Linked DNA regions of Homo sapiens: region 1 is linked to region 2. Evidence: fine-mapped QTL for protein levels in blood plasma. A gene starts in region 2. The other region holds a variant in brackets. All regions are shown on one strand. Distances are between the middles of the regions.

Region 1 (15,622 bases), 150 kb after region 2:
ATGCTTTGGGAGGCCAAGGAGGGAGGATTGCTTGAGGCCAGGAGTTCAAGACCAGCCTAGGCAACATGGCGAGACCCCCCTTTCTACAAAAATTAGCCCGGTGTGGTGGTGCAAGCCTATAGTCCCAGTTACTCAGGAGGATGAGGCAGGAAGATCGCTCAAGGCCAGGAGTTTGAGGCTGTAGTGAGCTATGATCACAACACTGTACTCCAGCTTGGGTAACAGAGTGAGAGCCTGTCTTACATACACGTGTGAGAGTGTGTGTGTGTGTGTGTGTGTGTGTGTACACATCCTGGACAGCATACCAAGTCTGTGCATATATCTTGTTTCCTTTCAGTGCTGTGGAGTATTTCACTGTGAGACAGCACTCACACTCATCATCTATTTACCCAGTCCCCTCTGGAAGGACAGTTAGATTGTTTCCAATTCTGAGCAGTTGGGGTGAGAAGCGGGAATGTCAACAACATGAATCTGAGAAAGGCCTGCCTTGAGGTCCCGCATGACTGAGGAGTAGAGGGGAGGGGCCGGCGGGAAGCTCCCCTGCCAGCACTCACAAGGCTTCAGCTTGCCTGCCCCCAGGGCCCCTGCCCCCTTCCTGCCTCCATGAGTCACGCGCTGCCTCCCCATGACTTTGCAGCAAGGTGCAGTGCGCATGTGTGAGTACACGGACATGTATGTGAGTGTGTACACGTGTGCATCTCTCAGACAGCCTCAGCCTTGCCCCATGTACATCGTGTCTGCTCCCGCGGGAGCACACCCAGAGGACGCAGGCCCTCACCTGTACTCCCCACCTCCGTCCATGGGTAATGAGTGCATGCGGGGTTCCCAGAGGGCCCACTGTGTTGTGCAGAGCTCTCATAGCGACATCTTGCTGTGGGGTCCCTTCTCAGTGGACCCTGCCTTGCTCAGTGGACCCCCCCCCACCAAGTTCCACAGCCCCTCTTCACCCTGGCCTGTCCCTGCTGCTCCTCGGTGCAGACGGACCTCCAGCTGAAAATAAGCATTTCTGCTTATGGCCCTGGTCGAGGGCTCCCCCACCGCCAACCTGGTTGCTCGGAACCCACCCCCAAGCCCCACATGCCCACCCTCCACTTCCCAGCTGGCAGCGGGCTGAGGCAGCTCACTCCCAAACCCGGAAAATAAAAACAACACCAATCATCTATTTGCCTCCGCCAGCTCCACTGGGAGTCACTGGCTCAGGCAGCCACCCCAACCATTCTCCCTCCCCCCTTCCCCCTCCCCCCCTTCCCTCCCGCCTCCACTGCCCCTGGTATTGCTGGTGCCCCAGCCCCACCCACACATGCCACCGCCTTTCAGCTAATTGCTTGCAGGTGACTCAGAGCTGCCTCTCCGAGCCGGCTGATGCTCATTTAGGGAAGGGAAATTCAGTGGCCCACATAAAAATTGCTTTATTAAAGTGCAAAAATATTCTACCAACTGTATTCCCACCATCTGTTTTGTTTGTAATTCTTCTGAAAAGTGCAATTCTCTCTGCCTCCTTGGCCTCTGTCCTTTAAAAGCTGCCAGAGGTGACTCACTGCTGCTCCTGACCTCATGTCTCTGCTGGTTAATGGGGGGCGCTCTTCTGCTCAGCCCTCCCCTATACACAGGCCTGGCAGGACCAGCTGGCTTCGAGGCTGCTGGTGTGCGGTGTCTGGGAGCCAGTCCCCCTCAGCCCGTGCAGCCCCGGAAAGACTTAAGATGTTACGCAGATTTCCTGGGCAGAGGGATGAGCTGCGCCTAAGGACAGGAGACTGGTTTCCAGTCCTAGCTCAGACACCTGCAAGTCACTTCCCCTTGTCAAGCCTCAATGTCAGTATCTGGAGAATGGGGATAAATACCCACCTCGTAAGTGTGAAGCCTCTGAAGCCCCTCCCCAGTCTCCTCTGATACACATTCCCACCTGATACACATTCTGACACTCTTTCCCGCTCTGAACTTCTTCCCGATCTTCAGCTACAACTTACCCTTTCACGCTGCTGTACCTTGGCCCACACTGTATCCTCTCCCTGGAACGCTCCTTCCTTCCCTTCTCCGCCTCACAAACTCTTACTCCTCCTGCAATACCCAAATGAAATGACCCATCTCTCTCACCACATGGTAACAGTGCTGTTGTGGCACTTTCCCAGCTTATAATATAATCACTTGTATTCATCGCTCCCATGGGAATCATGAGAATGGGGCCTGGGTCTGTCTCATTCTCTGTTGAATCCCAAATCCCTGCACAAAGCTTGGTATATGGTGGCTGCTGGGCGTGGGATAGGGTGGGCAGTGTAACAGGGGCACAGTAGATACCGGCTCTGGGATCTCTCGGACCTCTGCTGGGCAACTGGGCGATTCACTGCATCTGTCCATGGCTCCACCTTCTCATCTCTAAGGCAGAAATGATAACACTGGCACCTTCCTCGTGGAGATGTGAAGTTTCGATGCGTTAGCATCATAAAGCACTTGGTACAGCTTGGGGCACGCTGTCAGTGTTCACTGTTGTTACCAACACCTGAAAGCCCTTTGGAAACTGTAGGGAGACCCCATGACCAAGAGCCGATGGTGCCAGGGATGCTGAGGTGAATGGTTAACAGCAGGCCAGGACTCCTGCTCCAGGGTAGAAAGGCTGTGCTTCCTAGGAGTGGTAAGGCTGTTGGCCAGCACCCCCATCTTACAGATGAAGTAGCTGAGGCCCAGAGAGGATGCCCAAGTTAGCAAAACACAGTGGCAGAGGAGGGAGTCCTGCTGGTTGTGCTTTCTGAGGCCTGCTTATCTCATAGCCCCAGGCCCCCTGCACCACGTCTGGGTCTGGAGGAAGCTGCGGAAGCAGTACTCAAAACTAAGTCCCGCTGGTGGTGGTGACTCACGCCTATAATCCCAGCACTTTGGGAGGCCGAGGCTGGGTGGATCACCTGAGGTCAGGAGTTCGAGACCAGCCTGACCAACATGGAGAAACCCCATTTCTACTAAAAATACAAAATTAGCCAGGTGTGGTGGCAGGTGCCTGTAATCCCAGCTACTCGGGAAAGCTTTAGGCAGAAAAATTGCTTGAACCTGGGAGGCGGAGGTTGTGGTGAACTGAGATCCCACCACTGCACTCCAGCCTGGGCAACAAGAGCAAAACTCCATCTCAAAATAAAAACAGAAAAAAAAAAAAAAAAAACCTAAGTGCCGCAAGTACCACATGCAAATCTGTGATTGTCTATGAATATTCCGTGACTCTTTTGGGTCCTTTGTGGCCCTTCAGTCAGTCTGGAAAACACATTCATGTAGCTGTTCTGCAGGCTTAGGTAAGAAACATTTGCTGTTCTTTGTCTCCTTCTTTTAATGGCAAATATTTACCTTTTATATGTGCCACTTAACTTGGGAACTGTACACCCTGAAAATGCCAAATCTCTTGCGCCTCAAGATTCTACTTCAAATTAGAAAAAAAAAAAAAGAAATCTGGCCGGGTGTGGTGGGTCACGTCTGTAATCCCAACACTTTAAGAAGCTGAGGTGGGTGGATCACTTGAGGTCAGGAGTTTGAGATCAGCCTGGCCAGCATGGCGAAACCCTGTCTCTACTAAAAATACAAAAATTAGCCAGGCGCGGTGGTACATGCCTGTAATCCCAACTACTCAGGAGGCTGAGGCAGGAGAATGGCTTCAACCTGGGAGGGGGAGGTTGCAGTGAGCTGAGATCCCACCACCACACTCCAGCCTGGGTGACAGATTGAGATACTATCTCAAAAAAAAAAAAAGAAAAAAGAAAAAAAAATCTGTAGTTGGCACTCCCCAGTCCCATTTTCACCCCGCTTCTGCAGAAGGAATTCTTGTAGATTGAGGGAGTGATGAGAAATAATTTCTTGCTTGATAAAGCAAAACCCAGAACGGTAAGGTTGGGCCTGGAAAGAGAGGATTTCCCTGTGGGAAGAGAAACTGAGCTGTGTGGGAGGGGAACTCAGTGTGTGAGGATGAGCCTCTGTCTCCGAGCCTCTCCGTTGCTGCTGCCTGCTGTGCCCATGAGGGCAGCGGCTGCCTCTCCATGGACTCTTCAGAGTGTAGCTCTGGTCCTGGCCCTCATAGGCTCACAGCATGGCAGCAGCAAGGCTGGGATGTTCCAGTGATACTCCCCTGGAGGCCAGGGTGAGAGAGCAAAAGGAGACCAAACATGGGAAGGATCTAGAAGCTGGGGGATGTGGCTCACAAGGCGTAACTCCCTCTGGAACCTCCCTCATCATGGGTCCTCCCCCCAGCACCCGGCTCCCTTCCTCCATGCCCCACAGTGGTCTCTACAGGAAGTCTACACAGAGATTCTCCTCCAAGTCTGCATGTGGCCTCCAAACCTCCTTTTCTAAAATATGGGAACCCCTTTTATACATCAAGACATTTTGCCAACTACCGTCCACCCCATAGTAGCTATCATTGTAAAATTCATTGGTGGATAGTAATGACCAAATGCGAATATACATTCAACAGCAATTTTAAGTTTAATTTGTTTTCTAACAGTATCTACATATATTAGGAAAAATAATGGTGCATATATGTGGGTGATATATTATTTAGCCTGGGAATGGTGTTTGGGGGAGTGTATTGACTTCAGGTCCCCCTGCAGGACCCCGTGTCCCCACATCTGCTCAGCCCTGATGGGTGATAGAGTGGGCTGTGTTCTCCCCCTGTCTGTGCTGGGCACAGCTCTCCTTCCCAGGGGCTGACCTGAGAGCAGCCTCTCCTGGAAGGTGAGGCCCAGCCCCCGCCTCCTCCCCACCCCAATCCATCACCATTAGCCTGACCTTGCCACAGTGACGGGCCTGTTTCCTTACGCGGGGAGCTGGGGCCTGCTTTGACAGTGCCTAAACATCTGACAAATCTTTTCAGCCTGCTTTCCACCAATGATGTGGCACGTTGCTTTAGGGTTGTGTGCAAATGGATTCACTGTGAATATCTCTGAGGTTCCCATCATCTTCTGTAAGCATCTTAGATTTGTAGAATGGTCTTTCTCCCCTGTCCTCCACCTGCCATCTCTTTATCACTCCATCTTTTCTAAGTTGTTTTTTGTTTGTTTTTATTTTTTTCAGAAACAGGGTCTCACTATGTTGCCCAGGCTGGCCTTGAAGTCCTGGGCTCAGCCAATACTTCTGCCTCATCCTCCTGAGTAGCTGGGATTCCAGGCATGAGCCACCATGCCCAGCTCTTTTTCCAAGTTATTATGTAGAGCTCAGTGCAAATGCCGCCTCCCTAAGAGGCTGTCCCTGACCACCTGACTAGACAAGGCCCTGGCAACCCCCAGCTCCTCCTTACCTACTTGCCCTACTTTTGTCAATATCTGGCATTATTTATTTGTTCATCTGTTTGCTTGTCTCCCCAACTGGACTGGGAACTCCATGAGAACAGGGGCATCCCCAGTGACAAGAGAGAGCCTGGCCCTTAGCAGAGCTCAATAAATAGAAACACAAGAAGCATTCCTGGGATAACAAAGCCAGTTAGCTGCACAGCTGGGATTTGTCCCCAGGTCTCCCACCCACTTCCCACCATGCTCTTTCCAACATACCAGGTAAGGGGTAGAGCCATGATTTGAATGCCAGACTCCAAAGACAACCTGCTTATCACAGGCCTTACTGTATCCTCCAGTACAGCCTCCTGATGCTTGGCCTGTCTGCTAGAACGTGAGTTCAAGAGCTGCACTATCCAACATGGCAGCCACCAGCCATGTGTGGCCATTAAATTTAAATTAATTAGAGTTAAATAAAATTGAAAATTCACCTCTTCAATCACGTGAGTCCCACTTCAAGTGCTCAACAGCCACATGTTACCAGTGGCTACTGTACTGGACAGCACAGATGCAGGACATTTCTGTCCTTGCAGACAGACAGGTCTATTGGACAGCATTGCTCCAGAGAGGAGGGACCTCAAATCTGTCTTGTTCACCATTTCCCTAGCACTTAGAACAGTGCTCAATTCATGCTTTTATTCAATGGATGAATTAGTTGATGCTGATGCTTCCGCTGAGAGCCTCCTGCTCTCCTCTGCTGCTGATGCTCTCTCCTTCTGCCCCTCAGGGAAGGATGAAGCCAGCAGTGTGGAGGTGACGTGGCCAGATGGCAAGATGGTGAGCCGGAACGTGGCCAGCGGGGAGATGAACTCAGTGCTGGAGATCCTCTACCCCCGGGATGAGGACACACTTCAGGACCCAGCCCCACTGGAGGTGGGCAAAGGCATCTGGGCCTCATAGCCAGAAAAGCGGGCACCACCCACAACCCCATGGGCTGAAGCTGGGTTCCCAGGAATCTGCAAACTCAGCCTCTAGAGTGATGGAAATCTTGGCAAAGCGAAGGCTTCATACTGATCCCTCCATTTGTAGTTTGCACAACACTATCACACCCACATCTCTTCTGCTTCTCAAAGAATCCCTGGTGTATTGGCAGGGCAAGCATTTTTGCACCCATTTTACAGAGGAAGAAAACTGAGGTTAAGAGAGGAAATCCACCAAGGCCCACCAAGGCTGTACAGCCAGTTGTGAGCAAAGTTTTAAAATGACCCCAGGTCTGTTGCTGCCCTCCTGGTTCTTTCTGAGTCTCTGACAAGACCTCCTATTGCCCTAGGGTGGGGCTCAGAGCCTGCACCAGGTTTTCTGGAGGCTCTTTGAGGAGCAGCTCTGGACCCATCTCAGCAGTGTCGTTCCAACTCTGATGGGGTTCACTTGGTGGCGATTAACAGGAACCCACTGAAACTGACACAAATGAAGGGGGCTTATAAGGAGGATCACTCATAAAACTCAGGGAAGCTCAGGATGAGTAGAAACTGGCAGCTTGATGGCCTCAGCCCTAGGAGCTCAAGGACCTTTGTCAGTGCACTGGCTTTGGGAGGAGAGGGGCCCCTCTTCCCCAACAATCCCCATCCACCCACCTCATTCATCAGTACGGTTGATTGACATTTTGTGTCATGTGTGTTACGTTTTTAGTCCCCTGCCCCACCCCAGGCTGCTGTCTCTGAGACCCCCATATGGGCATGGTAGAGCCTCCACAGCCTGGCAGGGCCGGCTCCCAACTCTTAAGTCTCTGAGTCAATTTGTTCAAATTCTTGCTGCAAAGCCTTGAGTCTTCCCTCCTGCTAGGATGTCCACCCATCAGCCCTGGCCAGAGAGGTGGGACACAAGCATGGCTGCAGGCACCCACCCGTGTGAGGGAGAGGTTCTTGGAGAAGTGAATGTGGGCAGTGAGCAGACACCTCAAAAAGCATCTCCCAGCCCTCATTACACTTTGCCCTGACAGACCCAGCCTCAGTCACAGGGTGATGCTACAGAAGGGACAGGTTCTGTTAGACGTCCCAGCTCGTGTGGATCCTTTGCACAGGGAAATGAGCAAGAGTCTGAACCGTATCCATTCATGGCCTTCCCGCCAGCCTTCTGTTCTCAGCGCAAAGGAAGGGTCTTACAAGGGAGGGGGCTCCCCCCAGGCCCAGAGCTCAGAGCATGCCTCACACTGTGGTTAGGGTGACAACTACTCTGTGGCTGTGACTAGGAGGGAACCTGGGATGGGACCTTCTCAACTCACTCATGTCTCTGCTTCTGCCCACCTTACAGTGTGGCCAAGGATTCTCCCAGCAGGAAAATGGCCATTGCATGGGTGAGTTGCCTTCAGTCACCAGGGCATGGGGTAGAGGCCGGAATCTCCCTGGGGAATGCCCGCCTGACTCATGCCAAGGTCCAGGGTGCAAGCAAGGGGCAGAAAGGAGGACAGGGGAGGGTGTTGTTTGTCCTGGGACTCCAGATGCCAAGACAACCACCACATGACTCACCAGGGTGG[G/T]AGTGATATTAGTGACCCACAGGCTGAATCACTGCGGTTCTGGAAACTGGCAGTGTTTTCCTGCCATGAGTACCGAGAAACTGCAGATGGGAAGGAGACACACCACCAACCTGGCACAGGGGGAATAGCCACATGCCATGGCCAGCAAGTCCATGTGGAGCAGCAAGCAAGGGGGCTGGCAGGCAAGGGTGTGCATTGCCAAGGGCATTGGGGCAAAATAGTGTATGGAGTGTGGTCACAGTGTGGAACGGAGACTGCAGCCTGGTGCAGTACTGGGGCAGGCAGGTAGCTGCAGCACTACCAGGATGGCAGCTCCTTGACGGTCCAAGAACCTTCTGAAAGTCCCCAAGAGCCTGGAATGGGAAGGGGCAGCCTAGAAGTTCAGTGTCCAGGAGACCTTCACCCCCAACACTTTCCATCCCAGTGACCAGCAAGGAGGGGTCAGGCCAAGGATCCCTCCTTCCTTGAACCCTCATCCAGCATTCTTCCCAAGTCTACTCTGCAGCTGCTCATTAACCCTTTGCTACTGAGATACAGGAGTAAACAAGACAGATACCACTCTCAGGAGCTGAAAACCAATGGAGAGCCACAAAAGTAAACAGCTGTCGACCACACAGTGTGATCAGGGCCCAGATGGGGGAGGGCAGGGGCTTGGAGATGACAAAGCAGGGGCCCTAAACCAGCCTAGGGAGGGTCCTAGAAGGTGCCCTAGAGAAAGTGAGGTCCAAGCTGGGCCCTGAGGAATGAGGAGCAGTTCGGCAGTCACAGAGAGGGGAGACATGGTTCTGGTGGGGGGCACTGTCTGAACAAAGGAGCACAGGTGGGGAGGTGGAGGAGCAGTGGTGCCAAGGGTGGCTGGAGGAGGAAATGACTCCCCTACACTCTCCACATGCCCACCCAGCCCCACTCCAAACACATAGTGCAGGTGCATAGAAATTCCAGAGTCTTCTCTGCCTGCAGGAAGGACCCTTTGAGATCAGCCTCCTCTTCCTTTTCATCGCCCAACAGGCAGTTATGTGCCTCGTACACAGCAAGTGTCATGCTGGGAGCTGGGGATGTAGGCCAAGTGCCACCCCCGCGCCTCCACAAGAGGGGCATCCATTCTAGTGGAGGGAGACAGACCCTGAACGCATGACCACACACCTGGACAAGATGATTTCAGAACCCTCTGAGCAAGGTGCTCCCTGGAGACTGTTCCAGAGAGAGTGGTCAGGGAGGGCCTCGGGGGGAAGACTCTGAGCTGAGACCTGAAGGATGAGAAGGATCTAGGCCCAGAAAGAGTTGAGGGAAGGGCAGGAGTGAAAAGCGGGAGACAGGACAAAGGCTTTGTGTGTTGAAGGAGCAGGAGGGATGCCAGTATGGCCTGGAGATGATGGAGAGTCCATGAGGCCCCTGTAGGGAGTCTGAATTTTGCTCTTAGGAGCCTTAGAAGCTAAACTGGGGAGTGACATGATGTGATTCACATTTTTAAAGGCTCCCTCCAGCTGCTGAATTGCAGAGTGGATTGGAGGGAAGAGGGGAAGCCAGGTATTCTGTGAGGAGGCAGCTGCAGAAATCCAGGCAAGAGGTCACGATGGCAGGAAATTGGGTGGTGGCAGAGGAATGAGAAAGAGGTGACAGAGAGAGGTGGACTGGTGGACTGCGGGGCAGAGTGGACAGGCTCTGCTGTGAAATTGCACAGGGGGCAAGAAAGACGGAGAAATCAGGGGTCGCTCTGATTTCCCCTTGAGCAGCTGATTGATGATGGGGGTGTTGATTGAGCTAGAGAAGACAGAACAGAGGGCCAGAATATGGGCAGGGCAGGGCAGAATCTGGAGTTCTATTTTGGACATATTAAGCATGAGGTGCATCTTAGACATCCAAGTGGAGCTGTCAAGTAGGTCATGGGTTATTGTATTCGTGAGTCTGGAGCCACGGGGAGAGGTTGTGACTGGAGATAGAACTTTCGGAATCATCCATGCATGAAGAGATCACCTAGAACGATTGTAGTAGACAGAAGAGAGGACCCAGGACCAAGCCTGAGTGCCCACCCCCTGCCCCCAGCATGTAGAGACCAAGTACAGGAGGAGCCAGCCAAGGGAACTGAAGCAGGGAAACTGAGGCTCTGCGAGGAAGGCACATTCCCAAAGCCAGACAGTGTATAGGCAGGCAGAGCCTGGGCTGGTACTTGCTGCCCCACACCTTCATGGTGAGTGGTTCCCCTCGCCTTGCAGACACCAATGAATGCATCCAGTTCCCATTCGTGTGCCCTCGAGACAAGCCCGTATGTGTCAACACCTATGGAAGCTACAGGTGCCGGACCAACAAGAAGTGCAGTCGGGGCTACGAGCCCAACGAGGATGGCACAGCCTGCGTGGGTGAGTGGGGCCCCAGCCATAGGCCAGTAGCAAAAGGATGTTGCTTTCCACTGGGGAGCTCTGGGTAGGCCCCAGATCAAGGTCCCCAGCCCCTTCCTTCTCCTGGCTGGATAGAGTCTCCTTTGACCCATATTGGGTCTCCAGGGAAGACCATGACAGAGGCTTGGAGAAGCCCCATCACTTCTACCATCACCTGAAGGGCCAGGGGATGCTGTGTCCTGGCCTGAGGCTATCATTCTTCTTACTTTTCCTAAAACAACTGTTCCTACCTTGAGGTCAGCCCGTATTTTCATAGCTGGGATATAAACTAACTCCTACTACTCATCTTTGGCTGAATTTCTAAACTGGTAATTTCTTCTTCCCAAACTCCTTCCTCCACCCCCACCCCGTCCCCACCCCCTTTCTCTTTTTCCCATTTTCTGTCTCCCCGCCGCATCGTTTTTGCAGCTCAAGTGGCCTTTTTAGGTGGGTATTCTTCAGCCGCCTCTAGAATCTCTGAGCCTCTCTCTCGGGCCTCATATCTTTCTCTAGGCCTTGGACTTTGCCTTCAGTTATATGCACTTTAAATCCCATCAATAAAGGAAAAAACAAAACAAAACTAACAGCCTTTGTGGAAAACTAAATCTCTCTCCTGCTGCTTGTCTCTCTCTCCACGCCCAGTAGGTTCTGCTGTGTGCTCCCTCTGAATGGACAACAGGGGTGGCCATCTTTGAAAAGGGAAGGTTGGGCGATACTGACACAACCTTAGTTGTTTGTGAAGACTTTCTTTGCATGTTTTCTGAGAAAACAGAAAGGAAAGTCTCCAATACCCCATCCAGTCTCCCTCACTCCTTCAGAAGAATCAAGATAGTCTTGTATCCTCCAGTGTCTCGTGAGCTCATTATTTTGCCCTTAACAAAGATGGCTCCCAGGTGGTTGCTTGCCGGTTGATCCGATAATGTACCATGTGCCTGCTGGTTTGGCCTGTGCTGTTTCTGCTTTTTGCCCCTGACTTCCTGTGCTAGAGAAAGCCTTATTGGTGTTGGTGGTGGTGATGGGAGGGAAAAGGGTGGTCCTTTGGGACTCTTGATAAAAATGTTATCATTTGAACTTGCTAAGCCTTCCAGCCTCTTTTCTGAAGAAATTATGCCAATAAACTCTCTACTAGATATTAGTGCCAAACTGATGATAAAAAGGGTCTGGGGCAAGTAGAACTGATTGGAATGCTGAATTAGGAGCAGCCCTTCCACCATGAGATGCTTTGAAAGCAGATCATAACACAAAGCAGGTGTCACCCTCAGGCACCAGCAGTGGTTTGGTTGCGTACAACAATGTTCACATTTGGGGGACCAGGGTTTGGGCCAAGTGAAGGATGTGTGATGAGTGAGGGGCAGAAATGGAGTGTGTACTCTAGGCCTTTTACCTGCAGGAAGTCACTTCTCCATGCTGTGCCTCAGTTTCCCTAATGTAGATGACAAGAGAGTTGGGCTGGTATATCCCTAAGGGCCTTTCCTTTCTAAGACTCCTCAATGTCTGGCTGGACATAGGCCTGGCTCATCTCAGGTTACTCTGATTTCTAGAAAGAACCTTGCTACTTGGTCTCTGCAATCTCCTTGGAAAATAGAATGCTCCTGTAGCCAGAACACTCTTTGGAAATGATGTAACGCCACAGAATATGCTCACGACCAGCCTCAGTAGTGAAGGCTTGTTATAAAACATAGATCTATTCTTCATGGGGAAAAAAAGTCATCCCAGGATATAATAAAATTACACTTAAGAATGCAGCAACCCTTTTAAAAACATATTCAACAAAAAAAAAGCCCCTGCCATTTTCTGATATCATGGTAATACTCCTAATAAATCACAAAATATGAATTCCTTGTAGCTAGTGCTGTTTTTACACTTAGAACAGAAGCATAAATGAAAAGTTTTTAAATTAAAACAGCTACAATTTCCCTGAAAAGCAGACACCAACTTAAAAATCATTCCACTTCTAGAAAGCCCATTCCTGTGTATTGACATAGAACTAAAGATCTGAAAGGGCTCCAGAGATGAGGCTCAGAGAGCTGAAGTGTTCAAGGTCACTGTGCCCAAGGTCATGGAGCCCACTGCTCCCCAGGCCAGGGCTGGAGCCCTTTCCCACCACACCATCTTGTCAGAGGGTAACAGGCAGCTCTGTCACTGTTCAGACTATTCCCTAGTCCTTCTGGAAGCTGCTGCCTTTTAAAAAATGAACAAAGTGGATCTAAGATAGTGAGATAAGTAAAACCCAAAACCCATGGAGGAATGGTTCCAAATGCAGTGGTAAATGACAAGATAACAGAGCCCATTGACTGTCCATACACAACAGCACAAGAAATAAGGGACAAGACAACTACAGAGATGGCCTGCCAAGGACATCAGGGGGTTCAGGGTGACAGCAGACTTCAGATGATGCCTTATAAGTGACAACCATGAATGCCTTCACAATGAGTTTTATATAACAGGGTATATCTGTGTCATGTGATCCTGTTGGGTGAGTGGGGTCCAGTGAGTTGCAAAGAGGAGTTCTAAGTTCCCACAGCTGATAAGAGCACCACTGCAGCACTCAGACTCCAGGATAAGGCTTCCATTTGATTCATTCATGAGTTCAACAGATACTGATTGAGCACCTACAATGTGCCAAATATTTGGTTAGGCTCTAGGCGTACAATGGTAAATGAAGGTAACAATGGTAAGTAAAAGTAATATGTGTTGATCCCCTACTACTATGTGCAGGTACTGAGCTAGGCTCTAGGCATACAATGGTAAGTGAAAGCAATATTTGTTGAGCCCCTACTGTGTGCCCAGTACTGAGCTAGGCTCTAGGCATACAATGGTAAGTGAAAGTAATATTTGTTGAGCACCTATTATGTGCCAGGTACTGAGCTACGCTCTAGGTATGTAATGGTAAGTGAAGGTAACATTGTTGCCACCCCTACGCTGCCTTCCCTCCAGCCAGATAGAGGAGCCAAGTGCATGGGATGGGAGTGGGACACCAAGGGGCTTTCTAAAAAGTTGAGCTGAATTCTCAGGTTGCTATACCAGAAAGCAAGCTCTCTGCATTCATTCATTTACATATTCATTCAGCAAGCATTTATTGAGAATATCCTGTATGACAAGCACTAGGTTCCTCCCATGAGGAATGTGATAGAGACCCTCTAATGAGGTGGACAAGTCCCCTGCCCCCAAGATGCTTGTGTTGCAAGAGATACAAGGCTGAAAGATACAGAGGACAGGTGGATAGTGAACCCACTCAACATTACCTACCCCCTTACCAAAAAAAAAAAAAAAAAAAAAAAAAAACAGAGCCTCCTCATTGAGCTAGCAGTACAGGCTTTTTGAACAGGTGCCTCAAATTCAATGCATCTACTGGTCTGTGCTATACCAGCCACAGATTTGCGGGTGCAAAGCCACCCCCAAGCTACCCAGGCTCAGCATTCCCATTCCCCTCTTTCTTCTAATCCCTTTCTCTGAGACCCGTGGGAGCCCAAACCGTTCCGTCCCCTCCTGCACACAGATAAGTCTGTCTTTTCCCTGTCCCTTAGCCCCACCTAGGCTCCTGACATCTTTGTTGCCTTATGCTACACTTTAATTTGTAACAAAAATAACAAATGCCTTTAGGGGCAGTCAAGTAATGAAATGGACCCGGAAGGGATTATGCAAATGGAGGAGCTGGTGCCCCACCTGCCTGCACCAGGCAGCCACAACTCACTCCAGTGGGAAGGTGGGCCAGTGCTGCCACAAAAATGCTCCCCATTTTTCAACAAAAAAGAAATAATAAGAATAATACCATTTTTATTCTGCTCAAGAATACTCCCTCTTCACAGGCACATACCCCTTAAAATGACAATAATAGCTTACATTTAGTGGGCTTGGCGTGTCTGGGTTGAATCTAAACTCTTTACAATAATCAACTCGTTTAATCCTCATAATAATCTCAAGAGGAAGGTATTGTAATTATCCCACGTTTACAGATAAGCTAAATGGTTTGTGCAGGGTCATACAGCCCAGACAGACGAAGGCAGGACTGGATCCCAGGAGTCTGGCTGTCAGCTGGCACTCTCAACTACCACTCCCTTCTTCATTTGGGATGGTGAATTGGTTTAAGCAAAAGCCACAGTCACTCATGCTGCCCAGGATCAAGAGCAGGATTGGGAGGGGAAAAATGGAGCCCCTGGAGGCCTAGTGATCTGAAATAGTCCTCCCCACGGTCACGTTCAAGTCTGCAAGAAGAGGTGGCAGTGCTTGCTAATGTCGAGAGTCCCCTCGCCAGGCGGGCTCAGCCAACCTTCACTGAGGCAGAATGGTAAACCATCCACTAGGCCTCTTCAAGCATCTACACGGTTGCCAACCCTACTCTGGGAAGGTGCCATTCTGAGGGCCAGGAGTTTGATTATGTGTCACTCTGGCTGCTATGGCCCCCTCCCAGGGTCTGGGTATCACACCCAGGCCAGTGCCACTGGACCTCGGCCGAAGCAGGAACTCCGCTCCAGACTCCAAGAGCCCCGTGTAGACAGGAAGATGAGCACTTCATTTTTGCAGGGAGCCAGCCAAGTTCTTCCAACAGATTCCAGGCTGAACCTCCACCCAGACTTCCAGCCCAGAAGGCAAACCGAGCCCCTCCCTGCCTCCCTGTGCCCAGGGCCAGTCTTCTCTGAGGCCAGAACCCCAGCCACAGGGGCCAGGAACATGCCAGAAGTTGCTGTTGTGTCTGTAGCAACAGGCATATCCTGGAAGGAAGGCAAGAGAACATGGGCTGGTTAACACCACAGATGACGCCAGCCTCTCCCACGGTGGCTTGTCCTCTAAGGAACTACTGTTGACAGTGAAGTGGTCAAAAAATAGGCCACCAGAGGGAAAATGAGACGCAAGAGAGAAGAAAAACATCCTCCAGGAAAGCAGCTAACATTTATGCAATGCCTGCCATATGCCAAGAACTTTACATCCATGTCTCCATGAATACTCACACCCATCCCAGAATATAAATGTTATGAGTCTATTTTATTACCAGAGAAACTGAGACTCAGAAACAGTAAATTACACAAAGTCACATAGCTAGCTAAAGTGGCAAGAGCTGTAATTCAACCTCATGACTAGCTCCAAAGCCTGGGTTCTTAAGCCTTATGCTGTGCGATCTCTAGGTAACTGACACTGGGGAAGTTATTTAACCAGTTGTTCATGTGATGTACAGTGACTGAACGCCTACTGTGTGCTGGATGTTGTTCTAGTGGCTTGGGATATACATCTGTGAACAACACTGGCAAAGGTCCCTGCCCTAGCAAGACGTGGCAGGCACTAAACAATACCCAGAATAAGGAAAGTCTGTAGCATGTTGGAGCATGATACGTGCTATGGAGGGCTGGAGAAGAGTAACATCAAGGCCATCCGGGAAGGCCCGGATGGAGGTGGAATGCCATTTTAAATAGCGGCGGGGGCAGGGGGGCTCCCTGAGAAAGAGGCATTGAGCAAAGACTTAAAGTAGGTAAGGTGTCTTT
Region 2 (15,622 bases):
GGTAGAGGTGTCAGGTCAGGTCTGCTGCATCCTGAGCCCTCCTCCTGCTGCCTGTGCCCTCACCTGCACACACAGCCTTCAGCCCCGCATCCTGCTGGAAAGCAAATAGCGCTCCAGCTCTTAGAGACCTCCAGGGGAGCAGTTTCTACAACCTCTGCAGGAATCTCGTTCTAACATCTCTCAACTCTCACACAGAAAAAGGCCTTCTTTTCATGAAATCTCAATTCCTTTCTGTTGCAATGAGCATGGAGTTGCTTTTATTCTCTGCTAGTTTGAGCTATACTTAAACAAGCCTAATTCCTCATGATATTCTCCCTGCCTCACCAAAGGATGGAATATTGGCTTCACTTCTGCTCAGCCCTCATCTATGGTGCGTACAGGCCTGAGTCTAGGCTGGGATCCTGCCTCTGGGGTGTGAACAGAGCAACACTGAAGCAGCGAGGACCCTTTACCATGGAGGCAGGGCTGAGCCAAGGGTAGCCCTGAGCTCTTTTGGGTGCCTGGAAGTAAATAACTGACACTGACTAAGGGCCTCTTGTGGGCCAGACCTTGAAGAGGTTTATGGGAAATATAAAACCAGGTCTCTACCTTCAATAATAGCATCATAAAAGAATCACTTACTGACTCAACTCTGTGGACAGTGGAGAATGCACTGATTTTGGCCCAAGAGACTTACATTTGCATCCCAGCTGTGTCTTTGTTTGTTTGTTTGTTTGTTTGTAGATGGAGTCTCTCTCTGTTGACCCAGCTGGAGTGCAACGATGCGATCTCAGCTCACTGCAATCTCCACCTCCTGGGTTCAAGCAATTCTCCTGCCTCAGCCTCCCAAGTAGCTGGGATTACGGCACCCGCCACCATGCCCAGCTAATTTTTGTATTTGTAGTAGAGACGGGGTTTTGCCATGTTGGCTAGGCTGGTCTCAAACTCCTGACCTCAGGTAATCCACTGGCCTTGGCCTCCAAAAGTGCTGGAATTACAGGCGTGAGCCACCGCGCCCGGCTCCAGCTCTGCCTTTTATTAGCTGTGCTATTTTGGGCAAGACACTACACCTCTCTGAGCCTTCATTTATGTGTCTATCTCACAGGTGTTAATGAGGATTTTTTTTTATTCTATAAAGTGCTACACAATTAAAGGATTATCATAGATTGGGTGGGAAGAATATGAAGGCGGGGCTCTACATGTCTGCAATAGGAGAAATGCACATGTGATGTGCTAAAGGGCTTGGAGGAAGAGAAAAGGATGAAAATGAGTGGCATTTCACAGGAATGACAGGCAGAAGGAGGTGACAGTTGGGCACAGAGACAGGGGAAAAAGAAGGGAAGAAGGATGATAGCTATCATTTATGGAATGCTCACTATGTGCCAGGCGTTCGGCTAAGGGCTTTGCGTACATTATCTCACGTATTCCTTATGAAATCCCCGTCATGAGGTTTTATTATCCTCATTTTACCCTTGCATATGGTAGGTCATAACATACCTCCATACCCTCAAGCTGAACCCATGAGATATACATCCTATCTATAATGGAATTTGGTGCCAAGATGAGGATACAGCTTTATAAAAAATCAGAGAAGAACCAAGCAAGAGATGCAGAGATAGGTGGTCAGGGCAGAGGGTTTTCCACAAACCCTGGTTAATGACATCAGAAGAGTAATCAGAAATGATTGCCCTTACAAACTTCAAACATGGATTCCTTTTTCCAGATGCCATCGGTTTTTGTCCACCTTGTTAGCCCTCCACTTCTATCTACTTCCTGGATGGCCCATTTCCTTACTCTTCTCTTTCTCTTATGTCCCCTTTCTCTCTTCTTTACCCTTCTCTTTCTCTTATGTCCCCTTTCTCTCTCTCTCTTTCTCCCCGCCCCCCTCCTCCACCCCTCCTCACACATGCACACACACACAGGCTCAATTACCTTTTCCATCTTCTTTTGTGTCAATGTCTGACTCTATGGATGACAAGCTCTCCATGCTCGGTTTAGACACTGAAAACAGGCTATAGCTACAGACACTCTTCCCACCCGACTTTGCTCCCTCTCCCGACATCCTCCCTTCCCTTTCTCTCTTCTCTTGATTCTTCCCCTCCTTTTATTTACTCCTTCCTGTTCCCCTTCCTCTTCTGTTCACTTTTCACCCATTTATCTCTCTTCCCTTAGGATGGAAACTGACGAGGGCATCCCTAGCTCAGGAGCTCCCTGGCATTTGCTGCTAGTAAATGTATGCTACCACCACCCAACTGCTGACAGGGTTTTTCTTTTCTTTTCTTTTTTAAACCATGACCATGAGCTCATGTCTGTCAGAAACCTGGCTGGGTTGGCAGCTGGATATGCCAGACCAGGAAGGGCTGGAACCCAAAACAGGACCTGTCCACCAAGGCAGGGCCAGGGTCTGGGGAGGTCCTGGGAGCTGGAGGCAGAAGTGAGGCCAGGTTGGGGGCATGTTAAAGGAAGCTGGCATGAGGCAGTTGGCAGAGGTTCAAGAGGGCAGTTGATGCCTGGAATGTGGGGCAGCAGGTGTTAAAGACTCAGTCACAGGGAAGAAAGGAAAGCATCCAGAGCCCAGAATCCTAGGCCCTGAGGTCCTGGGTCATGGGGTAGGGCAGCAGGAGGTGAGAATGGATGGAGACCCAGTGACTGGAGCTGGGGGTACCAGCAGGAGCTCTCTCAGAAGAAAAAGGTAACAGTGGGGTCCTAGGACCTGAGAAGAAAGGTAGAGCAGGACCAAGGTCAGCAACAATGATAAAGATCCAAGATGAAGCTTCCCTGCTGTTGACTTGGACTCCAGGGAGCCTGTTTATCATGAAGACTGCTGGCTGAGCATCTCAAGCAGGAGTAGAGAGCTGTGTGGTCAGCGGCCCACCATGGCTTTCCTTTTCCCATCTCCCTCCCTGCATCACATTCTTAACCAGCCCCTCAGATTGCAGAGCCACCCCCACGACAGTGTGGGAAAACCCCGTAGCTCACTGGACACATAGGCAGGTAAGTTCCTGGAACCCAAGCCATTTTGGCACAGGTTAACATGATAAGCAGACACCTGCTTGCATCGTTACCTCCAGGCTTCCCCCTGCCCCACAGCCTCGAAAGTTTCTAACCAGACTTCCCCAGGATTCCATCATGTCCTCCTTCTTCCAGCATCCCTTTCCTGGGGCTGCTCTGCCTGCAGAGTTTCCCTGCAGCATGCGCTCACAGCTCAAGGTCTTCTGAACAAACTCTCTGGCCATCTGGAAGACTCCTTTCTGCATCTGTGATGGCTCTGGCTCTGGCCCTGACTGAACCATCCCCCAGGGTTTGTGGCTTCTCTAAAAGAGTTCCTGTCCAACTTTACCCCTAACCTACCTCCCCTTGAAAGTCCATCCTATGCATCTGCCTCTTACAAGCCACAAGTGCATCTGAAACCCAACGGCCATGTGATAAATGTGTACTCCTTGGGAAAAAGGGACGACCCCTCCATACGACTTGGTTTGAGAAGGGGTTATTTCCTCATACCCCCTTTAGCTCCTCATTTCTTTCACAGTTTGTGGTTTCCCATTTTCAACTATTGCTGTTTTTCCACCCCCTTACAAAAAGATTCATTTCTTTTGAGACAACCAAGCCTAAAATACACAATCCCTTATCTACAATTCCAAATCCCCAAATCTCTGAAAGTCAAAAGGATTTTTGTTTTGCAAGTTTGATGCCAAGACTCATCTGGTAGCAAAATCTGACCTAAACTGATGTGAAGTTACTTTATCCTCACACCTGCTTAGTGTAAACTTCATATATTTCATTGCAGAAATATTAATGTGTCTGATTTCAATATGCTGCTCAAAGCTTCACTGAGAATGTTTATGTATGGTGCCTTTCTGAATTCTAAAATGCCTCTGGCCTCAAGGGCTTCAGATAAGGGTGTGAGGAACTGTACCAGCCTCTCTGTTCTCCTGTGACAGAACTCTTGGGACAGAAGCATCTCTAAGATCTGGTGTCTTGACTTCTCACCCGGAGAGAGAGAAGATAGCCAAGTAATCTTCTAATGTAGAGAGAGAATTAACAAAGTCATTTGTCAATGAAAGGACATGGGGTCTGGAGGTTGTCTTCAGTGTTTCCTACAGTTTTTGTCCTGTCCTTAACTTGTTGCATGACTGTTAGCAACTTGCGTAAAGTCCAACCTCTCTGATCCTGGACTTTAGAAGAAAACTAGCTCCTGAGAACTCCTGCTCCAGTGATGTTGATGATGACTAACACACACAATACATCTTGAGTTTTTAGAAAATGAAGTACTGTACAGCTTTAATAGTATTTTTAAGTAAATAGGTTTAATTGGAATAACTCAGCAAATATCTAATGTGTGTTCACTCTGTGCCCAGTTTCATGCTGGGTTCTGTGAGGTAGTCAACTGCAAGGTACAAACTCTGGACTTCAAGGGGCTCATATTCTGATAGGGAGGCCAAGTATCACTGAGTGAAAAAAAGCTAATGTGCATCACAGGTGATAAGATGGTGTAGACCTGCAGGAGAGCTGAAAACTGCTGGCCAGGGCAGTTTTGGAAGGTGGCGCAGGAAGGAAGACTTGGTTTGGGTATGAACAGATGAGAAAACAATTTAAGCACGTTCCCCAGGTAAGAATGAAGAAGTCTGTGGGGGAACACTCTGAAGAAAAAACAACTTCACTGGGGTCAAAGGACTGGAGCCTGAACAAGATGCATGGGGTAAGGGTGTGCTGAAAATGTGTGTATTAGTCAGCTCAGACTGCCATAGCCAATACCACAGACGTGGAGCTTAACCACAGAAGTTAATGTTCTCACAGTTCTGGAGCCTGGAAGTCCCAGATCAAGGTGCTGGCAGGTCTGGTTTCTGCAGAGGCCCTGCTCCTGGCTTGCAGATGGCCTCCTCCTGTTACTCAGGCAGGCTTTCTCCTGAGGATGCACAGAGAGAAATGGGAGATCTCTGGTATCTCTCTCTCTTCTTACGAGGACACTAGTCCTATTGAATTAGGGTCCACCCTTATGATCTCATTTTGCCTTAATTGCCCCTTTAAAGGCCTTATCTCCAAATGCAGTCACACTAAGGGTTAGGGCTTCACTATGTGAATTTGGTCCGGAGAGGCACAATTCAGTCTATAACCGTGTGCATGTGCCTCAAGAAAGCTGTGTTTGGGCAATGTGGGAGGACAAGAGGTCTCTCACGGGATTGGGGGTGGGGAAGGGCTGGAGCTCTGAGCAGACACTGACATGAACTGAGCAAATGGACATCGAGGACATCAGAGAAATGAGAAATTTTCCAACCAGGACTGCCTGGCCCACTGGGCTAAACCCTCACAAGTTCAAGTGCTGAAGCCAGATTGTATTCCCTGGAGCACTTCCTGGCTGGAACATCTCCATCATTTCCTGCATTTTTCTGTCCTTCCCTAGCACCTTTGGTCTGTTGTAACCTTACCTGGCTAGCTGCAGGAAAGTGTGAGATTATTACAGAGTTATTTTGCACAGAGCACCTATTCACATCTGGTTGGCTAATGCTGATAATTACCGTGCTGGTTACTAAATCTGTCGGGTCTGGGTGAGGTGAGGCGCTACAGCTGGGGCTGCTGTGCACAGCTTCACCGGAGAAGAGAGAGGTGAGAACAAAAACCAAGAAAGGTGTGCTCAGATGTTTGGGATTGAGTGAAACTGGTTAATTACCAGTCACTTGCTGTCTCCCTGAGTTGGAGTTTCTGGCTAAGGAATGCTCATAGATCAGACATAATATGACAACCTGCAACTTATTTCCACATTAAGAGGGTGGCGGGGACCAAGATGCAGAGAAAGTGTGGAGACAGTCTCTCAGGTGCCAGAGCCTTGGCCAGATGACTCAGATGCCCTCAGAACAAGGTGGTGGCATGTTCCAGCAGGGTGCAGAGCCAACTGGACTCCTTATGCAGAGAGCTGGGGATCAGATATGGCCTTGGGGGCAGAGTCTATTTGCCGATAGATGAAGGTTCTTAATCAGGGCCCTAGATTAAGTTTTAATGATCCACGAACCCTCCTAAAGTTGCATGTCAACATGTGTGTATGTGAGTGAGCATTTTTATAAGCAACAGATCCATAACATTTATGAGATTCTTGAAAGGTTCTAAAGGGTCTGTGATCCCCAAAAGGAGGGTGATTATAAACTACTGTCCTAGACCCCTGAAGAAACAGGTTGACATTGGACCGAGCCCCAAGAGACTCAGGGTTCCTAATGATCCTGAAAGTATACTCAAGGTGTGTGTGTGTGTGTGTGTGTGTGTGTGTGTGTGTGTGTGTGTAAATGTGTGTGTTTGTATATTTTTCTAGAAAAATGATTCAGTAATTTTTGCCAGATTTTCAAAGGGGCCCACAACCTTACAGGCTTGATGGGGGCTCAAAAAGCCAGAAAGTTTGTCTGTGCCTAGCTATTTCTTTTCAGAGGAAGATCACAGAGACCTGAAAACAGAGCCCAGACTAGGTCCTGGTAGTTCTGCTCAAAATCTGTGGATAACAGGGGCCAGAGGCTGGATGTGTGGCCCTCTATAAAAGAACACATTCAAATCATTCTAAGAGTCAAGGGCCCAGAAGCCAGACTAGTGGGTGATGGTCACAAAAGCGTCAACGGATGGGAAAACAGTCCTAGCTCCTTCCCTCTCCGATGGTGGATTCCCAAGTCTTTCTCTTCTGTGGCCCCTTTACCTGGCTTTCAGAAACCCAAAGACCTCACTCATGGAAGCTCAGAATTCATTCAATAAACACTGAGCGCCTACTATGTGCCAGGCTCTATTCTAGGCGTAAAATAAAGGATTTGCCTTCAGAGTGTGACCCACCAAGGCCAGTTTCCTGCCTGAACAGGGGTATTTTGAGCATTGCTGATCAAGTGTGTTTTTCTGGCGCTTAGCACCCCCATTCCCCTGGTCCAGAGAGGCAGAAACCATCCCCCCACCACCACCAAGGCAGCGGGTTGGGGGCGAGGAGAGGCGGGCAGTACCTGTGATCAAAGCGGTGAGGGAGGCTAGTAGGACGCAGGCGGCAGGAGCGGGTGGGCCAGGCCCGACTCGGCCACTGCTGGGGTAGGGACTAGGTGGGATGGGGTGGGGGCACTGCTGGTGGGGACGGGGTGGGGTAGAAGCGGCGCTGCCCGCAGCCGCCTGGGCCTCTGCGCGCCTGATCTCCGAGCTGCGCTCGCCCGCTCCCCGCCTGCGGGGGCCGTCGCGGAGCCCTGCTCTCCATACTGAGCAGTCCCCGGGAGGTGCTCGGACACGTCCCCAGGCTGGATAAAGATCGGCTCGGCTCTAGCTCCGTAGTCGAAATCTCGCCATCAGCGCGGCTCGCTCGGCCGCTTTGGCCCGGCCCGGCGACGCCAGATCGCTATCCTGGGGGGAAATGGGAAGGCAGTGCAGCCGCTCCCGCCTCCACCCTCGGTCCTGCGCGCAGGGGTGGCCGCGGGGTCCTGGGGCTCGCCGCCCTCCCCTCCCCCTTCGCGTTCCTTCCCTGCGCTGCCTCCCGAGGGACCCTCGCTTCCCTCCGGCCTGGGGCCCCCAGCGCCCAGCCAGGCGCCCTCTCCCCTCCTCGCCAGGCCTCGCTGCCGCCTGAAGGTTACGCGACGCAGTGGCGGGGCGCGGGGGGCGCCCGCCCTCGCCGCCGCCTTCGCCGCCGCCCACCCCAGTGGCCGCCGCGCCGCGCCGGGCCAGCCTGGCTGCCGGCTGCTGCCACCGCAATCCCGGCTCCTAAATCAGCGCGGGGAGGCGCTCCCTCCCCACGCCCGGCTCTCCGGGCTCTCGGGGCCGCGATTGGCCGCGCCGGCGCCCCCCACCCCGGGCCCCCGGCTCCAGCTGCCGCGCCATTGGCTGCGGGCCTCCGCCAGCCTTTACATAAGACCGGGCGCGCTCGAGTGGAGTTGTATAAAGCGAGCGCGCGGCGTCGGGGCGGGAGGCTCGAGGCCAGCCCGGGACCGGGGCTGGGAGCAAGCAGGCGGCGGCGCCGGCGGCAGAGGCGGCAGCGAGCGCCCGCTTCCCACGCCCCTAGGCGGCGGGGCCGAGAGCGGGAGGATGGCTCCGAGCGCTGACCCCGGCGTGAGTATCTGCACCGGTGCCCCCCACCCTAAGGCGGAGAAAGTTTCTCCAGCTCTGCGCGCCCCCCCGGATCCGCCCGCAAGGGTGGCGGGGACGCCGCCCGGGAACCCGGGAAGACTGGGATCGCGAAGGCGGCGGCTTCGCTCCTAACTTGCTGGGAGGCGCTGGACTCGATTGGCGCGCGGAGCCTCCCCCGCGGGCTGGGGGTGAGGCGGCGGCCGGGTTGGAGGTGGCGGAGAGGTGGGAGCTGATGTGTGGGGGCGACAGCCAGCAGCTGGCAGAGAAAGTGTTGGGGGCGCACTGGAGGTCAGCTGTCAGGGGAGGGGGCCTCTGGGGCCTGGAGGGGGCGGAGCGGGTGAGGAGGGATGTGCCGGGCTATCGGGAGAGTCTCCCAGTCAGCCAGGCTGAGACCCGGGCCTGGGAAGCCACTGGCCTCGGCCGAGTGCCTACGCTTCCAGGCTGGGGAAGAGCCCCGCGGGCTGGCTCTTCCTCCCCTGGGAAGCCGAGTTCCCGGGCACAGCGCTGGGTGGCAGAGAGCTCCGGGAGCCAGCCCCGCGCGCGGCGTAGCTGCTAGCCGCCTTATGCTGGACGAGGTGTGGTCTTCCCTTCAGGCTGCCTGAGGCAAGCCGGCTTCAGGCATTCCAGGGGAACCCTGAGTCCTCCTCGACCCCGTGGGGGCACTTGGAGGCTTTGATGGGGCAGCCAGGCCGGGCTTGGGGGCATGCCCAGCAATGCAGCGCGCTTCTTTGCAGTACAGTAGTTGGGAGCCCTGGTTAGTCCCGCTTCTGCAGAAAGCAACTCAAGAATCCAAAGTCATCCCAGCCTGGATGGAAGCCTCCCAGAGTGGCGGGGAAATTCTCCTAGGGTTGAGAGCTGGGGGGGCTTCCTCCAGGAATGACTAATGAATATTGCTGCTGCTGCCGCCGCCGCCGCCGCCGCCGCCGCCGCCGCCGCCGCTGCTGCTGCTGGTGGGTGCACCCAGTGTGGCTTCTGCACATCCCAGGAGATGCTTCCGTTCTCCTGACAGGACACATTCTTGAGTTGCACTTGAGGTGTCTTCTGGGATGGGTGCAGGACTTTCCACGTGAAGCCAAGTGGAAAAGAAGGGAAGAGGGTCCCAGGACAGGGGACAGTTCTATAGTGTTTTCTTGAGTCAGGGGAGAACTCATGTGGGAAGAGATAAGCGATTGACGGAGATTTGGAACCCAGACGACTTGGGGCTGGAGATGTCCAAGACTGAATTAGAGCTCATTGAGAGTCACAGAGTACCTCACCCTCAGCCATGGGGGAGAGGTGGAGGCTGGAAAAGTGGGAACATGGTGGCTGTTCCAGCATGGTTCTTGAGAAAATGTTCTCTCTCTCTCTCTGACTTGGTTAAGAACATCCTTCTGGCAGTAGGTCCTAAAGTCAATTTAAGAGGTAATGAAGGGAGTTGAGGGTCTTGATGATGGCACAGAGGACCACAATTAGAACATTTCCATTTCCGGTGGGTACTAATGGACTCTGGAAAAGGTCGAAACGGTGTGTAGGGAGTCTGGGGAACCTGCTCTGTGGCTGCTCATTTGAGCCTGAATCCTCCACCTTATCCCATCCCTGAATGTAGGTGGATGTTCAAACTCCTAGGGTACCTGCTTCAGCCTGGAGATATTTTATGGGTGCTATCAATCTATATCCCAACCCCCAGCTCCATCGTTGTCTGCTGCAGTCAACATTTTTCTGCTGCATTTCCCAAGACCTTCTCTCCACTGGGGATTTGTGCAGCGAAATACCTGCTTGTTGCTCTTTCTTCCCTTCTCCATCTGGGCTGCACCTGGTGTTCTGAACCCTGGTGTTTATTCCTTGGTACCTTGATGTTTGGTTAAGACGTCCTATGGCTGCGCAGGGGTGCCCCTGTAAATCTGTGGACCAATGGCCTGTGTAATTCTAGGGAGTGCAATAGACTTCTATAGAAAGAATACCACCAACCGGGAAGGCAGTCCTACTAAACAGCTTGTGACAGCCTCTCATGCTCAAGCGCTCCCTTGCTTCCGTGCTGAGGCGGTGGAAGCCTAAAGGTGGAGCAGACTCCTTGGTGTCCAGTAGGGGGCGCCAAAGGTACCTGGCTCAGGACCACTGACTTTCTCACTTCTTGCCCTTTACTGGCTGTAGCAACTTAATGCTTTAAGGCAGCTCAGGCTACAGCCTTCAACCACCACCATCGTACTTGGAATCCTTCTACCACATGCTTCCTGGGCTTCAGGTGGTCCTGTGACCTCGGGTGCTATGGGGCAGGTGCAAGCACAACATTCCAAGGAGACAGAGCTGGTACACAGCCCCACCCTCTCTCGGGGATCATTCCTTTGTGCTTGGTGCCGCTGTGTTCTTTGAACTCTTTAAGGGTTCATGGAGTTCCAGAACATTAGAGCCAGAAGCAAGGAGCCTTGGAGAGCATCTCATCCAACCCCATTCCATCCCAACACTCACATGCACATTTAATTTACAGATGAGAAAACTGAAGCTGGATAAAGCCAAGGTCACATGGCTATTTGGTGGAAGACATGGAACTAGGCCCTAGGATTCCCACTGCTCGATTCAGAGCTGTTTCCACTCCAGCGGCCTGCTTCCTCTTCACTATAAAGATGGACATACTTTCTCTATACAGTAGGCACTCATAGTTATTGACTGACCAGGCTTTGGTAAATTAATACATCCCATACAGTTGGGGAGATTCTATTTTGAATCTGTTTTTCAGAGTGAGGAGGTGAGGAGAAAATACAGTTCTTGTCATGGACATACACAGGTCATAGAAATTCCTAATTATTCTTTCCCTGCCTCTACAATCTCGTCTCATTATTCCAAGTGGTGTTTTAAGCAAAAGCCATGCAAGTCCAGGTTTCAGTCTGTGCATTTAGGAGTCAGAAGTGCCGAGTCCCTCACTGTGGTCTTGGAACCCAGGTCTGGAGCGCCAAGGAATGTTGGCGTGGGGTCTCTCTGCTTGCAGTCACACCACTGCTGGTGAGACCTCCCAGATTCAGATTATAGATGGATTGGAGAGTTTCCAAAGAGTATTTGCCTATTTCCCCCACCCTTGCTGCTCCCAGCTCAAGGTCAGAGTGCTAGGACATTCTATTTTTGCCAAATCCTTATGTTTGGACTTCTTCGGTGACCTGCAAGATACTACCATTTCCATTGCCCTTTCTTCTGTTCCGAGAGCCTGGCTGTCGACATCTGAGCTGGGCTCTGGGAAACAGGTTTGCTGAGTGGCCTGTGGGCGGCCCCCTTTGTTCTCTTTTTTTTTTTTTTGAGACGGAGTCTCGCTCTGTCGCCCAGGCTGGAGTGCAGTGGCGCAATCTCGGCTCACTGCAAGCTCCGCCTCCCGGGTTCACGCCATTCTCCTGCCTCAGCCTCCCGAGTAGCTGGGACTACAGGGGCCCGCCACTACGCCCGGCTAACTTTTTGTATTTTTAGTAGAGACGGGGTTTCACTGTGGTCTCAATCTCCTGACCTCGTGATCTGCCCGCCTCGGCCTCCCAAAGTGCTGGGATTACAGGCGTGAGCCACCGCGCCCGGCCCCCTTTTGTTATTATCTCCCCACCTGGCTTCTTTGCACACTGGATGGACTTCCTCCTGGTTCTCCTTGGAGCCTCAGCAGACTCGGAAGCCTACCCTCGTAAGAAACCCACTGCTGCCAAGCCAGAATTCTGAGAGGCGGAATCCTCTTCTCTCCCTAAGACTCACGAAAGGGATGCTTGTTGCCAGGGAAGATGCTTGAGTCCCCTCCTCTCCCTCATGCTCACAGAAGATGAAGTTGGAGCTTCATCTTCAGCGGGAGGAGGGAGGTGCAGGATCACGTGGACCACCGGAGAGGAAAAGCCCCTCTCTTTAAACTGGAGTCTTAAGAGGCTATGCTTGAGATCTCACCAGCTCCTAGCTTTACCTGGTGAAATGAGCCTGCATTCTCAAGACTTGTTCTGGTTCTGGATAAGACCAGAGGAATATACTTACATACATTGTGGTTATAGTACAAGCTCTCTGGACTTTTGTTTGAATGCGGGAGTGGGTAGAGAGCTTGAGAAGTGGCATTAGACTATGAGAAACAGGAAATTGTCCAGTGGGGCTTTTATGAGCCCCACCAGATGGCTGACCCTTCCCCCTCTCATTGTAATGGTAAGGACACAGGCTTAGAATCTGGTCTCCGCTTGCTGGCTTAGAGACCTTAAACAAACCACTTAACCTCTGCAAGCCTCAGTTTCCTTCTCTGCTAAATGATGAGGCTGACAACCATGTGATGAGGGTAGGGGAGCGAAGCTGGAGGGAGACAGTCTTTAGTATTCCTCTGCCCTTGGTTAGAGGTAAAGAGGTATTCAGTTGGAAGGGGATATTATTGCTGAATCACTGGGAACCCCCGAGTCTTCTTTTTCCCAGTGAGTGAGCCTGAGTGCCCAGGTTTGCACATCAGCCTCTGCTCACAGCAATATCTGGGCTGATGGGCAAGGCCTTCTTGGCAGGGCTCCCTCCTTGCCTCTTTCCCTGCCCCACCTCAGGGTTTTCACTTTGGGGTTCTGCCATGCTTGGGGAAAAGAAATTTTATGGGTCCCAGGATAATTCTGAATGTGATGGAGGGCCCTGAGCTATTGATTCCTAAGGAAGGATCTTTCTGCTGGGAGAAGCCTTCCTTGGAGCCTAGTGATTTAAGAGTGCTGACAAATTCGTGCTCACCGAGCCTCCTGCAGGCTGCAGATACAGGCTTCCAGGCCAGCCTGGGCTCTGCTAGGGATTTCTGGAGAGCCTGGCTGGTTGCTTAGGGGACATAAACCTGTGAACTTTCCTTAGGAGAAAGTATGAAATCAATTGGTTCATTATCACACCAAACACACCCCAGACCATTTAGGGCATTTAAGAAATAAGAAGCAGCAAAGGACTGAGAGGTTGTCTTTGAAAAGTGTGCAGAAAGGTGTGAAAGGGTTGGGGGAAAGGAAGGGAGAGGAAGACCGTTTTTCCCCTGAACCACTCATGATTTTTACCTTATCGAAATCCTTGAATGGTGACTAGAGGGGTTATTTTGTTCCCCCTCCCAGATATTTGGCAATGTCTGTAGACACTTTTTCTTGTTACAACTGGGGAATGGGGTGCTACTAGTATCCACTAGGTAGAGGCCAGGGATGCTGCTGAACATCCTACAGTGCACAGAACACGTCTCACAGCAAGGAATTATCTGGCCCAAAATGTCATTAACACCAAGATTGAGAAACCCGGGACTGGAGCATTGCAGCACAGAATCACAGCACATTAGAGGTGGGAGTGATTTTAGAAGTACTCTCATCCAATTCTCCCATTTCACAGCCGAGGGCACTGAGATCCAGAGAGGAGAGGGAAGCAGCCAGGATCACACTGCAAGCAAGTGACAGAGCTGGTCTGCAATTCAGATCTGCTCTCTCCTGAGACCGTTTTACCCAGATTCCCCCAGAGTTGTTGTGAAAATTAAATGTGAGCTGTGAAAACAAAAATAAATAGAAAATTATAGAGACTATATTAATATTTCTATTATTAAGAATTGGGAGTTTGTATAGTTGTATTTCTGGCTATGCCACTGACTCATTGTGCAATATTGGACAAATCATTCTCCCACCCCCATGCCTCTCTATGAGTGTGTGTGTGTGTGTGTGTGTGTGTGGTGGAGAGGTGGTCTTAGAGCAAAAAAAAAAAAAAAAAAAAAAAAAAAAGGATAATATAATCATTCTCTTTAGAGAAAGGTCCAAAGATTTGCCCTTCAAAAACCCTAGACACTAAAAAAATTAAAATTTTCCTTGAAAGAAATCATGTTGACTTTGTAAGAAGCAAAGCGTTTACTTCTTGGAAAAATTCCAGTACCCTGGCCCTGTAAGTTGGTTCCAGCCCAGGAAATCTGATCAGCATCCAGAGGAGAAACTGATAGCTCCACAAATGACAAGAGGCTGGATATGTGCCCCCTCCCTCCAAGAAAGGGTGATGGCGACTTCTCCTCCATCCTTTCCTGCTCAACCCTCCTGGCCCAGAAGTTCCACAAGGAACTTCAACGAGGGATGGGAAGGTGTGTCATTAATCAGTGAAACCTTGTTTATTTAACAGACATATTCTTAAAGAGCTCTTCCAAGGGACATTTTGACGTATTACTTTAATTAGCTATGGAAGAATTGAGAGTGCAGAGAGTATAAAATGACCCTCTCTGTTGTTTCCAGTTACTCTTATCTTTGTTTGCACCGGACAAGTACAGTGACAAGGTCATGGGAATCACTGCTGAGCCCTGGGAGTGTCCCGGTGACCTGAGGAGGGACTGCAGGGACTGCTTTCTTTCCTTACATCAGCCTTCACCTACCTAGAGAGCAGCCACCTCGGTGGAGATTCCTGCTTTGGCATTCCAGCCCTCTATTGATGTAGACCTGTCTTAAAGGAAGCATCATGTTGTGCAAATTTTAACACAGCTCTTAGGAAGGGGAACAGGCCTGGGAGCTGGAAGTTCCCCTCCCAGAAGGGCAGAGGCGCTCTTATAGGATTGGTGGGAACAGCCTTGGTTGGTGTTTTTCACATGAGGTCTGACCCTGGTCTTGTCCTCCTTGTGCTCAGGATGGGAGGTAGGAAGTCACTTGAGGCTCCCCTGAGAGGACTGAGGTGACATCCCTCCCTTCCCACATGGGAGCGTCACTATGTAGATTCCTGCCATGAATCTTCTGTGTGTCCTGAAGCAGGTCCCTTAGCCTCTGGAGGTCAGTCCCTGTAATCAGAGGAGCTGGGTGGCAGGCTCTTTCCGTCACCGGCAGTCTCTTCCTCTAAGGGGTGGCACATTCCCTTTCACTCTGGTCTCTAAGAACAGGCTCTTTCTTAGAAATCATCATCATGCACCTCTCATCTGAGAAGCTGTGTATATCCAAAGAGGCTTTTTTCAGGTGGGGAAATAAGAGTCCTCAAGGAGAAATGCTGCCTTGTAAACAGTATGAGGGAGACACCGTCATTTGTTCTCAGCCACAAATTCAGTGCCTAGCATGGCACTTGGCATGTGGAGGGGCTCAGTAGGTGCTCAGTGGGTGCACAAATGAGTAAGTGAATGTTGGTGGCCATTCTGGGGCAGAGGTGACCCTTGGTATTCGATTTGATCTCCAAACCCGCCTTCCATCTAGCTCCTTCCCAGAGCTGGCACAAGGACTATGTAAACCTCCAAAGGTCCCCTGATCAAGCAGCGCTTGAGGACTCCAGGCAAGGCCCACTCCATGAGATGGTGGCTGGCTCTGAGCCTGGAGCAAGGCTGAGTTTCTCTTCCTCTTTACCTCCCTTTGCTGTTTTCCCTCTCCTTCCCGCCCCCTTCCCACCTGGCTGCTGCAGGGAAGCTCAGTGCAGGTTTACTTTGCTTGAAGCTGATAGACTGCATGGAAATTTGGACTTCCACTGGAGACAAACTAGGAAGTGAATCACAAATATATATCTGGGAGGATCCTTTTAAATAGTGGGGTCCACGAGTGCATTTTAAATTATTTAGGGAAAAAACTTGACACGTAAACTATTAGGCCTGGAAAAGAACTTTGGAGGTCATCCAGTGCCCTACCCCACCCCTGGCCCCAGGATGTTCAAATCCTCTCTGTGA

Alleles and levels. Alleles are on the strand shown, and positions count from the first base shown. The strength of an association depends on the size of the effect and on how common the allele is.
With allele G in place of T in region 1, the plasma level of the protein whose gene starts at base 7,856 in region 2 is higher (strong association).

The links. PIP is the posterior inclusion probability: the model's chance that the variant is causal. Protein levels are from antibody-based Olink assays in UK Biobank. Linkage for the fine-mapping came from a reference panel and not from the study's own genotypes, which makes the PIPs less certain.
Region 1: its variant is fine-mapped to the plasma level of the CRTAC1 protein (UK Biobank, PIP above 0.99).

What each region holds. Positions count from the first base shown.
Region 1 is chr10:97,874,754-97,890,375 of GRCh38, reverse strand. It overlaps CRTAC1 (cartilage acidic protein 1), which reads left to right. Exons shown (of 15, transcript NM_018058.7): 12 at 6,025-6,170; 13 at 7,548-7,590; 14 at 9,984-10,127. It overlaps MIR3085 (microRNA 3085), which reads left to right and starts at 14,479; the gene lies at 14,479-14,563. RefSeq lists enhancers at 430-724, 337-949, 950-1,562, 1,563-2,176, 7,173-8,372 and 1 more and a silencer at 7,590-7,884. The variant G/T (reference allele first, on the strand shown) is at 7,771.
Region 2 is chr10:98,022,855-98,038,476 of GRCh38, reverse strand. It overlaps CRTAC1 (cartilage acidic protein 1), which reads left to right and starts at 7,856. Exons shown (of 15, transcript NM_018058.7): 1 at 7,856-8,028. The coding sequence starts at 8,005.